Regions from separate parts of the Homo sapiens genome. Here region 1 is linked to region 2. The links come from fine-mapping of genetic effects on plasma protein levels. A gene starts in region 2. The other region holds a variant in brackets. All regions are shown on one strand. Distances are between the middles of the regions.

The links. A credible set is the group of variants that fine-mapping cannot tell apart. PIP is the posterior inclusion probability: the model's chance that the variant is causal. The UK Biobank Pharma Proteomics Project read protein levels with antibody pairs (Olink). The fine-mapping took linkage between variants from a reference panel, not from the people measured, so its PIPs are less certain.
Region 1: its variant is the best candidate, but not a certain one, in a credible set for the plasma level of the CA9 protein (UK Biobank, PIP 0.74).

Annotation. Positions count from the first base shown.
Region 1 is chr9:35,159,744-35,168,072 of GRCh38, reverse strand. UNC13B (unc-13 homolog B) reads right to left here and starts at 6,064. Exons shown (of 40, transcript NM_001371189.2): 1 at 5,768-6,064. The coding sequence starts at 5,789. RefSeq lists a silencer at 6,069-6,198. The variant A/G (reference allele first, on the strand shown) is at 3,299.
Region 2 is chr9:35,669,185-35,677,513 of GRCh38, reverse strand. CA9 (carbonic anhydrase 9) reads right to left here and starts at 3,586. Exons shown (of 11, transcript NM_001216.3): 1 at 3,152-3,586; 2 at 1,947-1,976; 3 at 1,583-1,753; 4 at 1,308-1,450; 5 at 1,125-1,217. The coding sequence starts at 3,554. It also overlaps the pseudogene RN7SL22P.

The DNA.
Region 1 (8,329 bases), 510 kb after region 2:
GTGGCATGCACTTGTAGTCCCAGCTACTCAGGAGACTGAGATGGGAGGACAGATTGAGCCCAGGAGTTTGAGGATGCAGTGAGCCACGATCGTACTACTGCACTCCAGCCTGGGTGACAATGCAAGACCCTGTCTCAAAAATAAAAACAAATGTTTAAAAACCATCTACAGGCTGGACGTGGTGGCTCACGCCTGTAATCCCAGCACTCTGGGGGGCCGAGGAGGGCAGATCACAAGGTCAGGAGTTCAACACCAGCCTGGCCAACATAGTGAAACCCCCTTCTCTACTAAAAATACAAAAAAAAAAAAAAAAAAAAATTAGCCAGGCATGGTGGCAGGCACCTGTAATCCCAGCTACTCAAGAGGCTGAGGCAGGATAATTGCTTGAACCCAGGAGGCAGAGGTTGCAGTGAGCAGAGAGGGCGCCACTGCACTCCAGCCTGAGCAACAGTGTGAGACTCCATCTCAAAAAAAAAAAAAAAAAAACCTACAAAGATGTTCATTGTAGCACTGTTTGTAATAGTGAAAAGAAAAATATCCTGAATATCATCAATATAAAACTGTTTAAATTATGTATGCTTATATAACAGAATACTCTGCAGCCATTCAAAAGAATGGTATAGACCAGGGTGTCCAACCTTTTGGCTACCCTGGGCCACAGTGGAAGAAGAATTATCTCGGGCCATGCATAAAATACATTAACACTGGCCAGGCGCTCATGCCTGTAATCTCAGCACTTTGCAAGGCCAAGGCAGGCGGATCATGAAGTAAGGTGATCGAGACCATCCTGGCTAACAAGGTGAAACCCTGTCTCTACTAAAAATACAAAAAATTAGCCAGGCGTGGTGATGGGCGCCTGTAATCCCAGCTACTTGGGAGGCTGACAGGAGAATCGCTTGAACCCAGGAGGCAGGGGTTGCAGTGAGCTGAGATCGCGCCACTGCACTCCAGCCTGGGCGACACAGCGAGACTGTCTCAAAAAATAAAAATAAAATAAAAAAAATACACTAACACTAATGATAGCTGACAAATCTCATAATGTTTTAAGAAAGTTTACAAATTTGTGTTGGGCCACATTCAAAGCCGTCTTGGGCCACATGCAGCTCACATGCCACAGGCTGGACAAGCTTGGTTTAGACTCAGATGACCTGACAGGAAAATAGATCATTGAGGTTAAAAAACAAAAAAAGCTGAAGAATGCTATGTACATTCAACTGCAGAACCTATATACTCATCTGCAATGAAAATTTCCAGAAGGATAGGTAAGAGACAGTAAACAGTAGTTACCTCTGGGAAGTAAGAATACCGAATGGGGACAAGAGAACTTTTCCTTCTACTTTACACTCTAAACTGTTTCAACTTCTTATCTGTATATTTATCACCTTATAATAAAAACAAAATGAAAACAATGAATTAAAAAGTTAACAATAGTTGGGTGTGGTGGTGTGTTCCTTGTAGTCCCAGCTACTCGTGATGCTGAGAAAAGACAGTCACTTGAGCCCAGGAGTTCAAATCCAGCCTAGGCAACATAGTGAGATCCCATCTTTAAAAAAAAAATTAAATTTAAAAAAAAAGTTAGCAATGGTATTGGCAGGTGGTAGGCCCATGGAAATTTTTTTCTTTTTTTGTACTTTTCTGCATTTTTTAAATTTTCTATAATTAGCAATGTATTACCATACACATATTTTTTTTGAGACAGGGTCTCACTTCGTCACCCAAGCTGGAGTACAGTGGCATGATCTTGGCTCACTGCAACCTTGCCTCCTGGGTTCAAGCAATTCTCATGCCTCAGCCTCCCAAGTAGCTAGGATTACAGGTGAGCACCACCACACCTGGCTAATTTTTGTATTTTTAGTAGAGATGGGGTTTCACCACGTTGGCCAGGCTGGTCTCAAACTCATGTCCTCAAGTGATCCACCTGTCTCAGCCTTCCAAAGTGCTGGGATTACAGGCAAGAGCCACCACGACTGGCCTGCATTTATTACTTTTGGGGGAAAAAAATCCATAGTTAAATTATCTAACTATGTTATAAACACTGGGAATAACTATGTTATAAACACTGGGAATTACAGAGAAATATTATGGAAAGGTCTGATTCTAAAAATGCTTATAATTGCTTGGAGAAACTTGGTCGTGAATACCAAGACAATAAAAGTCAAACAAAATCCTTAATTTAGTTTACTGCAGTTGTTCATGTGGCACTGGTCCCTATGGAAGCCCAAAAAAAGTATCCGTATTATAAGTAAAGCTGTGCCAAAACATGTTAAAGACTTATATTTCTTTATACTTATGGAAATATTTAAAGAAAGACTAAGTGAATTCTATAAAAGAGTGGTTTCTTAAAAATTCAAGTCTAGGCCGGGCGCAGTGGCTCACGCCTGTAATCCCAGCACTTTGGGAGGCCGAGGTGGGCAGATCACGAGGTCAGGAGTTTGAGACCAGCCTGGCCAACATGGTGAAACCCCGTCTCTACTAAAAATACAAAAAATTAGCCAGGCATGGTGGCAGGCGCCTGTAATCCCAGCTACCCCAGAGGCTAAGGCAGGAGAATCGCTTGAACCTGGGAGGCAGAAGTTGCAGTGAGCTGAGATCATGCCACTGCACTCCAGCCTGGGCAACAGAGACTCCATCTCAAAAAATTAAAAAAAAAAAAAAAAAAAAATTCAAGTCAATCACCCGCTGAATGGTCAATATCCCCTTTAGAATCCTTACCACTCATTCAATTTCTGTTTAGTGTCAAAAAATCTACATAGCCCATTCCATTTGTTCTGAACAACCCAACTGTTCTTCTTTATGTTAAGCTAAAATCTAATTTCCTGTCATTTTCAACCACTGATCCACACTTGTCCCAGTTCTGTCCTCTGGAATGACAACAAAAAAGGTGACATAACTTCTACAAGACAGTTTTTTAAACAGTCTTCATGTACTATCGTGATCCTCTTCCTCTTAAATCTTCTACAACTAAATTTCCCATATTCTTCAAATGGTTCGGTTCCTACATGTTTCATTATTCTAATCACTCCCCTCTTAAGATAACCTAGCTTCTCAATATGCTTCTTAGAAGGAAATACCACAGCTGAACACAAAATTCCAGATCTGATCTGACCAGTGCAATTACTTCCTTTGTCTGGGTCACCATAAGCACCACAATACAAGACCAGTTGCAGGCAGCATATGATTCATTTCCAAACTAGTGGCACTGTTCAGACCACAAGTGCTCCGAGGATTTAAAGGAAAAAGAGATCACTGTGGACTGGGGACCTGAAGAAGTTTTCAACAACAAAAAAAGTAGACTGTT[A/G]GCTGGGAAAGTAAGAATACATTTTAGATAGGCAGAAAATATGGAACGAGTATTTCAGGGGGCACAAGTGCAGAACAGAGCAGAGGCAGGAATAAACAAAGTTAGTGCTAGAGCAAAGTCTGCATAAGGATAGGCAAGAATAGAAGGCCACAAGTCTGGAGTCAGAGTATTGAGAGCCTTAAACCTGCAGGCAATAAGGCATGATTAAAGGGCAAGACAAAATAACTGACTTCTTGAATGAAATGTTTAGGAATGATTAATTCAATACCAGTTTGCCAATTTCTACATCAAGTTAACTACTTTTTGAACTCTGCATAGGAAGTTTCTAATTGATTCTACTCCAAGATGAATTGAAATTGAGTTGTAATAAATATCACTATATAGACTGCTTTCAGAATACAACATTCCTACTGCCAAAATACAACGCAAGGAATGTCATTTTAGAAAGATGTATTTTGTGCTGGGTGCAGTGGATTATGCCTCTAATCCCAGCACTTTGGAAGGCCAAGGCAGATGGATCACTTGAGGTCAGAAGTTCAAGACCAGCCTAGCCAACACAGTGAAACTCTGTCTCTACAAAAAATACAAAAATTAGCCGGGCCTGGTGGTTCACTCCTGTAATTCCAGCTGCTCGGGAGGCTGAGGCATGAGAATCACTTGAACCCAGGAGGTGGAGGTTGCAGTGAGCCAAGATCGCAGCACTGCACTCCAGCCTGGGTGACAGAATGAGACTCTGTCTCAAAAAAAGAAAAAGAAATAAAAATAAAGATGTATTTCAATTCATTTCTGTAAGTTTTCCCAAAATGAATACTTTGCCATTCAATATGAATATCTGCATATAAGGTACCTGTTTGTTTCAGTATTTAAAATCTTCTAGATCTCTATTCAAAAAGACAATGGCCTGCTGATCTCGTTTCTCCAGATTCAAAAAAGAAGAAACTTCACTAAAGTAACATTAAAAAGGAAAGAAGTTAGCTAAATAGCAGAATTTCTAGACAATGAAACCTGCCTGCTATTAAAACAAATGAAAACACCAGTAGTTATATAAATTCAGTTAAATAGGAATTTCTGATTCACGAGTGCTCCTGCCTAAAGAGTCTTTCATAAGGACCAGCTCTGTAATACAGTGTGGCCGTAGAGAATTAAACTGTCCAAGAGACACAGCAAAGTCCAACCTCTCCCAAATCCTGCTACTCAGCAGCAGGGATCTAAAGGAATAAATAGATTCCCAGCTGCTGAGAGAAAATGTCTTACTAAAAGCAAAGCAAAATTCTCATTAATGAAAAATCAACCATGAAAGAAGAAAAACTGTATATCTCATAATCCCGGGAAATGGCCAAATCCATTTTGGTTAATGCAGATTCAACAAAATAGTGGAAGAGAACAGAGCAAAGCAGTTTCATCTGCCAGTAGCTGGGGGAAACATCGTTATTGGAGAAATCACAAACAACAACAATGCTTCTAATCTGTAGAGCCAAAAGAAATATGAACTCTCCAGTAAAAGATATCAGGTAAAGGCTCTAGTTGATAAATGCTCTCTCATTCATAATCAAGACACATCAGATATGATAGGCTGTAACCTGAATTTCCCGAGATCAAATTCAATGGCTAATCCAAACCCTGTGTTTTCCTGATCAGATAATCTCTCTGAAGTCACAGTACTTGCATTCATTCAAAACCAGCATTAAGCTTCTACTACGTCAGACACCAGGAATACAAAAACTAATAAGAAACAGTCTCTACCCACATAGAACTTAGTTCGCGTACCATGCCTCATCTTAAACCCCAAAGCTCTTGCTTTAAGATATCTTCTTAGATGGGTCAAGTGTCCTCAGGGGAAAAGCAATAATGGCCCTTCACCTTGAGTTACTGTGAGGCAAGCTAAAATAAAAATAAAAATAAATCATACCTCTTATCCTCAAAAGCAGTCACCACATCCTCCCAAGTGGAACAGAAGAATAATCTTAGCCTATACTACCGGTTAGTGTTCAGGGAAGTGGCAGGGGACAAGACAAGCAATAGAAGGGATGTGACAGCTGTACCACTAACGCATTCAAAGTGTGATAAAAAGAACCTGCTACTAAGCATACTGTAGCGTTACGGTGCGAGGAGGAGGAAAAGAATGAGAGGCTGCCCACCATTCACAGGCACCAACCATCCGCGGTCTTCTAACTCGTCCACTCTCACTAGAGAACCCCAGTCACTGTTTAATAGGATCTGAGCCTGCAGTCCAACAACATTGTCACATGGCTACCAGAATGGAGAGCTAATCGTCCCTTGCAGGAGCTTGGGGGAAAACAAGAAAGTGGAAAGAACTCAAGTGATTGTTAAGTGATTGCCAAAATAATAGACCCCCAAAGCACGGACGGGATGTAAAGTTTGGGTGAGACGGTCACCGGACGTCCACTGGAAGGGTGCGGGGACCTCTACGCCGACACCCCGCCTCCCCGCCTCAGTCCGCGCACTCACCGCGCACGCAGAGCAGTGACATGGCCGAGGATCGGGCAAGCCTCTGCCGCGCCCCAGCCGCGCCGGACCGCTCCCTCTTTCCTCTCAGCAGGTGCCGCGACTGCTCTCGTTACCGGCCCCACGGGTCTGGCAGCTCCTCATGGTCCCGGTCGCAGGTAGCGTCCCGCCGCTGCCTCGGACCCGCCCCAAATCTCACCGTCTGAGCGAACTCCGGGTAGCGGTGAGTACCGGCCGGCAGGCTGGGGACTGGGCGCGGCACAGCGACGCCATCGCTGGGAGGTAGGAGCTGCCGGGACTCCCTCCCGTCATTCCACCCGGGATCCGCGCGAGCGCCTGGGCGGAGCCAACCCGTGGTGCCCCGCCCCCCAGCCAATTAACTCACGCCCAGTCCACCGACCCCGCCCCCCCCCGCGAGCACGTAGGAGGCGGGGTCCCCTTCCTCCTTTCTTTCTTGCGATCCTGAAGGAAGCTCCGCCCACTAATCAGGCTTACTGCAGGGAGCAAGGGGTTGACCCTCAGTTGTGTGACGCGAGAATGGAAGCCCTCTGTTCCTCCTGCATGAGCGGGGCTTCCACCCAAGAACAGATTCTTTTCATTGAAGGATTTCCACTGGACTTTCTTAGAGTCTAGCGGTCATAGCTGACAGCCTGTAATTTTAAGTTAACGAAGTCGCACCGCACAGCAAAGTTAAGTTTTGTTTAGCAACTAGGGCAAAAGACAAAACTGAGTGGGCATAAAGTATGTCTGGAGACCTCAGTTCTTATCTAGACCGTTTTTTATGCTCATCATTGTATCTCCAATGTCTGGAATAGTGCCTAGTGTATGGTAATCAGTCCGTAAATATTTACTGAATGAAGGATGGTAACCACGGAGGGATTGTGAGTGGAGATACCTCTGATCTTTGACAAATCTCCTATCCATGCTTGGTACCAACATGAGCTAACTCCATGGCTCAAACCAACAGGACAATTTGCTAAGGTCTAGGAGCACCCCCTCCAGAGAATCCCTGATCTCCCAAAATTTGGTCGAGATCTAAAGTTCATTTTGTTGTACAACTCCCTCTATTATTATTATTATTATTATTATTATTATTATTATTTTGGAGTTTTACTTGCTTCCAACAAGGAAGGCAAGTTTTCCTGCTTCCATGACGAGGGAAGGCAGGTAACTCTTTTATGGAGTTTGAGCTCACTTCCAACAGGGAAGATGAGGGGTTTTTTTCCTACTTCTGGGATGGTAGACAGCCGTTTTCAGCCTGAGACGCACCCCTAGGTAAGTAGCTGAATAGGGATTTTTGTCTTGGCTAAAGTTAACAACCAGCTGGTCTTAATTTCTGCTTACCATTAGAGTGCTCAGTGATCATATTGTTGGGTTTTTTTTTATTTTGTTTGTCTTTTTCCCATTGACCAACTCTACTTCACTTGGTCAAATCCAAGTGAGAATTCCAAATTATGGGTAACAAGGCCTATCTAATTTGAGTAAAATTCCTCACAGCTGCAAAAGAAAAAACAAACAGAAAACAAAAAACCATGTATTTGGTTTCTGTGTTTGCTTCCTGGTCTTAAAAATTAAACTGTTCTTAGGCCGGGCGCGGTGGCTCACACCTGTAATCCTAGCACTTTGGGAGGCCGAGGCGGGCGGATCACGAGGTCAGGAGTTCAAGGCCAGCCTGGCCAACATAGTGAAACCCTGTCTCTACTGAAAATACAAAAAAAATTAGCCGGGCATGGTGGCGGGTGCCTGTAATCCCAGCTACTCGGGAGGCTGAGGCAGGAGAATTGCTTGAACCAGGAGGCGCAGGTTGCAGTGAGTGGAGATCGAGCCATTGCACTCCAGCCTGAGCTACAGTGTGAGACTCTGTCTCAAATTAAAAAAAAAAAAAAAAAAAATTCAATTGTTCTTTTGTTTACTTTTCTTCCACCCTATACCTCCTTCACCCTTTGCCATCTGCATTACCAAAAAATCGAGAGAAGGCTTCTAATGACTTGAACCTCTTTAAAGAATTTAGGCCGGGCGCCATGGTTCACGCCTGTAATCCCAGCACTTTGGGAGGCCGAGGTGGGCGGATCACGAGGTCAGGAGTTCGAGACTCAGCCTCGCCAACATGATGAAACCCTGTCTCGACTAAAGATACAAAAAAAGTTAGCCAGGCATGGTGGCACGTGCCTGTAATCCCAGCTACTCAGGAGGCAGAGGCAGGAGAATCACTTGAACCTGGGAGGCGGAGGTTGCAGTGAGCTGAGATCGTGCCATTGCACTCCAGCCTGGGTGACAGGGCAAGACTCTATCTCAAAAAAAAAAAAAGAATTTAGAACAAAGGTGCCACTCACCCCCTTTTGGGGTGTTCTCTTGGCTTTGTGGGATTTCAAGAGTCATGGGCAGATTCTTCTTAGGTCTAAAGCTCTGTTTTCCTGTATTGCATGACCTGACCTTTTTGGCTTTGGGTGCCAGAGATGACCTTGCACTGTGAGAGGATTTGACCTTGGTGTGTATATTGTTGGAAAAGAGCTACAAAGTTACGGGTGGCTGAGCACAGTTTATAGGAAGTGGTTTTGGCTGTTT
Region 2 (8,329 bases):
CTGGAGAGAGAGGGAGAGAGCCCACTTTACTTAGGATACTAGGCTCTCAGTGACCCGTGCCCTTCTGACGTTTGCAGTCTCACTCACTGCTGCCTCCGTACATACTCCCCACAGGAAACCATATATACACCTTTGTGTTGGTGTCACCTCTGCATTCACCTTCATGATTCTGTGTTTGGCTTTTCAGGTGAGGTCCTGACATGCCACTTCTTTTATTTATTATTCTTTTTTCTTATTTTGCTTATGAACCTAATGTTAAGAACATTATGAACCTAAGAGTATGAACATATTGACATGCTATGATGGAGGCATTTCTCTGAACTTTGTGCTGTGTGGCTGGCATTAAAGAATCAGTGAGTGTGGCTGGGCACGGTGGCTCACACTTGTAATCAGCACTTTGGTAGGCTGAGTCAGGCGGATCACTTGAGGCCAGGAGTTTGAGACCAGCCTGACCAACATGGTGAAACCCTGTCTACTAAAAATACAAAAAAAAATTAGCTGGGCATGGTGGCACACACCTGTAACCCCAGCTACTCAGGAAGCTGAGGCAGGAGAATCCCTTGAACCCGGGAGGCGGAAGTTGCAGTGACCCAAGATCACACCACTGCACTCCAGCCTGGGCGACAGAGAGACTGTCAAAAAAATAAATAAATAAATAAAAGTGAGTGAGTGAACCTAGCAGGCATCTCACCATCCCTTCCCTTTACTGGCCTCCTCTAATCATGGTGTATGTAGCCATTCCCTAAATAGGCCATATTCTGAGTCTTTGCACATTCTGTTTCCTCTGCAATGAACACCTCCTTTTCTTTTCTACCAGTGAAGGCTTTAAGTGTCACCTCCTCTGTGACCACCATCTTTACTATGTCCTTCCTATGTGTCTGTCATGTCAGCCTCCCCCACTGGCTGTGGGCTCCTTAGAGGCAAGGACCTACAGCTTCAGAATCCTTGTTGGGGGCTGGTGCCTGGTTCACAGTGGGTGTTAAATGAACAAACAGTGCGTGAATGAGTTTGTCAGCCAGGGGCCTGAGTGAGCTTGCTGGGATGGGGTCTCTGGCTCCACGATAGAGTCCGGGAGGAGCATGGGATGGGAAAGCGGGGAGTAGGGGGTGTCCAGGATCTGGTACCTCCAGAAAGGCGGCCAACACGGCCAGGCCTCCCGGGCGCCCCAAGGCCTCGTCAACTCTGGCAAAGGCGGTGCTGAGGTGAACCACGTGGATCTGAAAAGGACACGAGGGTAGGAGAGGGCCACGTCTCTGGCCCCGCTCCGCCCCGCTCCTTTGCCCCTTCTCGGCCAGCTCCGCGCTCACCTCGGCAGGGAAACGGTGGCCTTCCACAGTGTGCTCCGAGCCCGGACGACCTGCAGCCCCCCAGTGCAGATGCAGCTGCAGAGCCCGGTACTCCCGCCCGGGACCCAGAGCCATCTCTAGCCCAGGAGGCAGGGTCAGTTGCACTGCGTAGGGAGAGGCAAGTGAGCCGGCCCCGCCCGGTAGGGCCAGCCCAACCCCCGGGCAGGCACTGCCGCGACGGTTCCCTTCCCTGCGCCCCGCCCCATCCCCAAGTCTCGGCGGGGAGACCCCCTCACCACTGTGGCCATTGTTGCGCAGGCGCAGTTCTGGGAGCGGCGGGAGCTGGAAGCCCAGGAGTTCCAGGGGGCGCAGGGCCGGGCAGAAGGCGGCGAGCTGGGGGCGGATATCCACCGGGGACTGGAAGCGGCCCGCGCAGGCTGGGGACACCCGGGGCCAGGGCGGGTCGCCTGGGGTGGGAGAGTATAGTGAGGAAGTCTGACGCCTAGGTCAGGAACTTAGGGAACCCGGGTAGAAAAGGTGAGGGGGTGGGACGGTGGGCGGCGGGTGGGACGCCCGGGACCAGTGTTCAGGGACGGCTGTAGGGGAGATCCACAGAGCTGGGTTCCCAGATTGGGTCTGTGCAGCGGGTGGGTGTCTCACCTCCATAGCGCCAATGACTCTGGTCATCCCCTGTATAAATGAAAAGGATGAACCGCTCAAGCTTAGAGCCCCAATCCCTTCCTGGCGACCAAAACGATGTCACAAACGCAGATGCCTTACAGGAGCATTACGGGTAACAAATGCCTTAAGCGGGCCAGGTGCAAAGCACAGGAGACCGCACCCAAACTCAACACCGCAGCTGGGTGGGCCAAACAGCAATCCTACCAGCTTGCAATCATTGTCTTAGGGTCTGTAAAAGTGAGTGGCTGCTTCAGGCCAGGCGCTGTGGCTCACGCCTATAATCCCAGCACTTTGGGAGGCCAGGGTGGTTGGATCACCTGAGATCAGGAGTTCGAGACCAGCCTGACCAACATGGCGAAACCCCGTCTCTACTAAAAATACAAAAATTAGCCGGGCGTGGTGGCGCATGCCTGTAATCGCAGCTACTTGGCTAGAGGCTGAGGCAGGAGAATCACTTGAACCCGGGAGGTGGAGGTTGCAGTGAGCCGAGATCGCGCCATTGCACTCCAGCCTGGGCAACAAAAGTGAAAGTTTGTCTCAAAAAAAAAAAAAAAAAAAGTGAGTGGGCACTTCAGTCCTGAGTCCCAAATGAGTGAGTACACCATCTTTCCTTTCTCCCTTCTTTCTTCTCCCCACTCATCCCTCTGCCTTGTATGGTCTCCAACCCCTTTCCCCAAATTCCTGGCTTGGGAGTCAAGAAGCCACGTTTCTCTACCTGCTGTGTCCCTTCTTCCTAGGTCTCAATTTCCTCATTGTAGCCTAAGATGAGATGACTTCTACCAGCTCTTCTTGCTTGTCTCTGGTACCCACTTCACCTCCCAAGCTTTCCTTTTCTCTTCCCCTCAAACTCTCTGACTCTCCTTCTCCACCTATTTTTTTCCTCTGTCTGCACATTTTTTCTCTCATCTGCAGTTCTCATCCCTTTCTCTTCTCCAGCCTCCCCCTTCTCTCCCATCTCATCCAGCTCACCTCTCTCCTTTTGCACCCTTTTTATTTTCTCTCCACATCTGTCCCTTTCTACCTCCGAGAGTGGGGATGGGGATATTGGTATGGGACCTCTGGAAGGGCTTCTGTGGGGAGTACAGTCTCCCCTCCTTCCCTGAGTGAACAGAGCCTAGGCTGGGGTATGGGAGGGGAGTCATGAACCTCCTGGAACCTGGATTTGGAGATTGATGACCACTTACCTTCTTTGTCCCTGTGGGCATTATTCTGGGGTTCTTGAGGATCTCCAGGAGCCTCAACAGTAGGTAGATCCTCTAACTTCAGGGAGCCCTCTTCTTCTGATTTAGGCTTAACTTCAGGTAGATCCTCCTCTCCAGGTAGATCCTCCTCTCCAGGTAGATCCTCCTCTCCGGGTGGATCCTCCTCTCTGGGTGAATCCTCTTCACTGGGCAGATCCTCCTCGCCCAGTGGGTCATCTTCCCCAGAAGAGCCTCCTCCCAAGGGGGAATCCTCCTGCATCCGGGGCAACCTCTGGGGATGGACAGGCACCAGAAGCAGCAGTGACAGCAGCAGTTGCACAGTGAGGCCTGGAGCAGGGGCCGGGATCAACAGAGGGAGCCAGGGGCTGGGGCACAGGGGAGCCATGCGGCTGACTGTGGGGTGTCCCAGCACACGGTGTGTACGGGCTGTACGTGCATTGGAAACGAGAGCTGGGTGGGGGAGGAGCAAGCCTGGAGGGGAGCAGGCTGACTCACAGAGCGCCCTTTTGCAGAGATGGAGCCAAAGTCTCACAGGTTTGTCTGGCCCTGTGCCCTCTCCCCCATACCAAAGCTAGGATGGGGGTGGAGTGAGGGGCAGGTGTGTGCACAGGCAGAAGGTTATCGGGGCCATGGACTCAGCTTGGAACCCAAGGCACCACCTGGCACTATGCAGGCTCTCCCTGGCACCACCCAGCTGCTTGCCAGCCAGCCTCAGCTAACCCTGGCCTGCTTCCCAGCTCCAGGCACAGAAGGGGAAAGGCAGGGGAGCTGGGGCCCCCATGTCCTCTGGCTGAGAGGGAAAGCAGCTCATGTATACATCCCTGACTCCACCAGGAAGCAGGTAAAGAGGTAGGGCAGGCTGCTAGGGGAGCCCGAGGGTGAGTTAAGTAATGGGTATGTGGGAGACAAACTTGAGCTTGAATGAAAAGCAAGTGTATGTGTCAGAGGGGCTCTGATAGGTTTAACCTATATTTATTTTTCAACACATTACTCTCCTGCTCAAAAGCCTTCATTGGCTCCCCACTGCCTGCCACGATATGCACATTGTGTACTTCTGACTTCCAACTTCCTTCAAAACCTTGCCCAAGAGACCTTTCCATCTTGTCTCCTACTACTCTCCCTCATACTCTAGCCAAATTAAACTATTATTTTTTTCTCCAAACCTTTTACCACCTTTGTTAATCTAGTTCTTGCTCCCTGAAATGCTATTTACTATTGCATTCAACAAATATTTATTTAGTACTACCATAGGTCCAGCACTGGGCTATGGACTAGGGACATGGAAATGAATAAGACACGGTCCCTCATTTTGGGAGGCTGAGGTGGGTGGATTGCTTGAGTCCAGGAGTTCGAGACCAGCCCGGGCAACATGGCCAAACCCTGTCTCTACTAGAAATACAAAAAAATTAGCCAGGTGTAATGGCATGTGCCTGTAGTCCCAGCTACTCAGGAGGCTGAAATGGGATGATGGTTTGAGCCGAGGCGGTTGAGGCTGCAGTGAGCTGAGACTGTACCATTGCACTCTGGCCTGGGTGACAGAGCAAGACCCTGTCTCAAAAAAGAAAAACAAAAACAAAAACAAAAAACGCTACCTGCCCTGAGCAGCTCACAATCTAGTGAGTGAGGGCAAACCCTGTCAATATCATCATATTGAGGGAAGAGAGATGAATTCTGCTTTAGAAGATAATATAGAAGTAGGCAAATTTGATCATGTCCTTGAAGAAATACCAGTTCCATTGGTAAAAACAATAGGGAGAATGATATTCTGGGCAAAGGGAAGGCATAAAATATTATGAGCAGGAGAGTGACAGAATCCAGTTCTCATACTAGGTCACGTTGAGGGCTTGAGGGCTAGTATGGAGCACAGATTGCAGGGGAAGACTGGGTGCAAGGAGATGGGGCAGAAGAGTGTGAGGACACCAAGAATGGGCTTAGGCCTCCCAGTTTTTTTCTTTTCTTTTCTTTTTCTTTTCTTTTCTTTCTTTTTTTTTTTTTTTGAGACAGAGTCGCACTCTGCTACCCAGGCTGGAGTGAAGTGGCGCGATCTCGGCCCACTGCAATCTCCACCTCCCAGGTTCAAGCGATTCTCTTGCCTCAGCCTCCTGGGTAGCTGGGACTACAGGCACCTGCCACCACGCCCAGCTAATTTTTGTATTTTTGGTAGAGATTGGGGTTTTGCCATGTTGGCCAGGCTTGTCTTGAACTCCTGACCTCAGGTGATCTGCCCGCCTTGGCCTCCCAAAGTGCTGGGATTACAGGCTGGTTTTTTTTTCTAATTAATTATTTTTAAAATTTATTTTAGAGATGGGATCTCACTGTGTTGCCCAGGCTGGAGGGCGGTGGCTATTTACAGGTGCGACCCTGTTACTGATCAGCATTGAGTTTTGACCTGCTCCAATTTCCACCTGGGTCAGTTCAACCATCCTTAGGCAACCAGGTTGATGCAGAACTTAGTGCAGACACCTGACTGGTATACTACACTACAGCCCAGAAATCCTGGGATCAAGTGATCCTCCTGCCTCAGCCTCCCAAGTAGCTGGGACTACAGGCACACGCCATCACACCTGGCTAGTCTGCCCTTTTAACAATTTATTAAGCCTCCGCCAGTCCTTCAGGTGCTGTTCTAGGCCCTACAGATGCAGCATTGAATAGAGAATAGCTCTACTGTTTTGTAGCTCACATTCTAGTAAGGCTCCATTGGCTTAAACAAACTAAAAGAGAATAAGGCCATTTCAGGTCCATATCTAGGGCTAATATTCAGTAGGCACCCACCAATATGGTTGTGTAGGTTAATTAAATACATTAAGATATTTCTAATCCTGTTGGCATATAGCCATGGCCCCTAGCTCCAGGGTACCCCTGCTACCCTAGCTCTTCCTTAGGGACCCTCCAGACCTCCTGATCCCTTATCTAAAGAGGTATTCCCTGGCATAACAGAGTCCCCAGGAGCCCACTTGAGTGCCTCAGCCACCTTCAACTCTGATAGGTCAGTGCTTGTGCACTTGCTGCTGTGTCACAAATAGTTTTACTGGCCAGGTGCAGTGGCTCATGCCTCTAATACCAGCACTTTGGGAGGCCGAGGTGTGCAGATCACCTGAGGTCAGGAGTTCGAGACCAGCCTGGCCAACATGGTGAAACCCCGTCTCTACTAAAAATACAAAAATTAGCTGGGCATGGTGGCAGGCACCTGTAATCTCAGCTACTCAGGAGGCTGAGGCAGGAGAATCACTTGAACCTGGGAGGCAGAGGTTGCAGTGAGCCGAGATCGCGCCACTGCACTCCAGCCTGATCGACAGAGTGAGACTCTGTCTCAAAAACAAACAAACAGACAAAAATCGTCGCTAACATAGTGAAACCCCGTCTCTACTGAAAAAAAAAAAAAAAAAAAATTAGCCGGGCGTGGTGGCGGCCGCCTGTAGTCCCAGCTACTCAGGAGGCTGAGGCAGGAGAATGGCGTGAACCCAGGAGGCAAAGCTTGTAGTAAGCCAAGATCGCGCCACTGCACTCCAGCCTGGGCGACAAAGCGAGACTGTTTCAAAAAAAAAAAAAAATTTTACTGTCCTCCCTGTCTAATCTCTTCTGTTCTTTGAAACTCAGATGAAAGGCCACCTCCTTCAGGAAACTCCTTAACCAACCCTCTACCACTAGTCTGGAAAAGATCCCTGGCATCTTTGAGCCAACCCAGTTCTTTGCCTGCCCTCAATAATAACTTTGTCCACCGTCTAACTCATATAAGGGTGATAACTCATTTTATCTGCTCTAACGGCCTTCAGCTCCATAAGGGCAGGGTCCGTACTTGATTGAGTCAGTCTTTTATTCAACAGCCATTATTGAGCATTTTCTTTTTGCAGATTACCTTGCCAGATGCTTGAGAAATACCAAATTGACTAAGATATATTCTCTGCCCTCAAGGAGCTCATTGTCAATGACCTGTGCATGTCCACAACTATCCCATAAACATGACATAACTTTTTACATTATTATTATTTTTGAGACAAGGTCTTACTCTGTCACCCAGACTGGAGTACAGTGGCGTCATAGCTCACTGCAGGCTTGATCTCCTAGGCTCAAGTGATCCCCCTGCCTCAGCCTCCTGAGTAGCTAGGACCACAGGCACAAGCCACCACCCCTGGCTAATTTTTTTATTTGTTTTGTAGAGATGGGGTTTCGCTATATTGCCCAGGTTGGTCTTGAACTCTTGACCTCAAGTGATCCTCTGACCTCAAGTGATCCTCCAACCTCAGCCTCCAAAAGAGTTGGGATTATAGGCGTGAGCCACCATGCCTGGCCCAACACCACATTTTTGTGGCACTCCAAATCATCTGTGTTGTCGGATGACTGTCATATTGTACAACAAAATATATATGACTGAATAACAGCTGTCCTCCAAATGGTCAACCTCAGATGTAGTCAGCCTAAGATTCTAGGGTGCCATTTCTGGAGCCAAATTCAGAGCTCTCCATGGCAGTGTGGTCCAGGGTACACTCTGGATGGCCAGCTGATTGTCTTGGTCAGCTCTGTCATTAGCTTGGAACTTGCTTGGCCCCTGACATATGGAAGTACATGGTAATATCTGAATTGGATGGGCCTATACAAGACAGAATGTGGTAACGACTAATCCAGCTCTCTGTTACAGCTCACTCATTTTTCAAATGCGATTCCCTATGGCTCTGTTTCTCTGTCTCTCTCGTCTCTGGTCTGAGTGGAGAATGTGGACTCTGACCCTGGATCATGCTGGGAGTCTGCCAAACCCTCAAACAGGTTTGAGTTATTGTTTCCTGAGTCTCCCCGGGTTGGGACAGAGTATACTCAGGACTGACTGACCAGGGCACCCCACACCTGGATCAGGACCTCTCTGTGGTTATTATAGGCCAAGTGTTTGCTCATGAGGGTTTGTGTTTTCAAACACTGAGGGGTCATGTTACTAAAACATGTCTCTGCCTATCCCAGCATGGCAGAGGAGGAAACTATTCACTGGTGGGGTAGAAGGGAAAATGCTCCCTCTCCCAAGCCATAGCTTGGGGGCAAAGACTGATCAAATTCCTTGTAGAACCTTGAGGCTGACTTGTAGTTCTGGCTACCTCCCCATCTATATTCATTTCCAAGGGCTGCTGTAACAAATTACCACCAAGTGGGTAGCTTAAAACAACAGAAATGGAT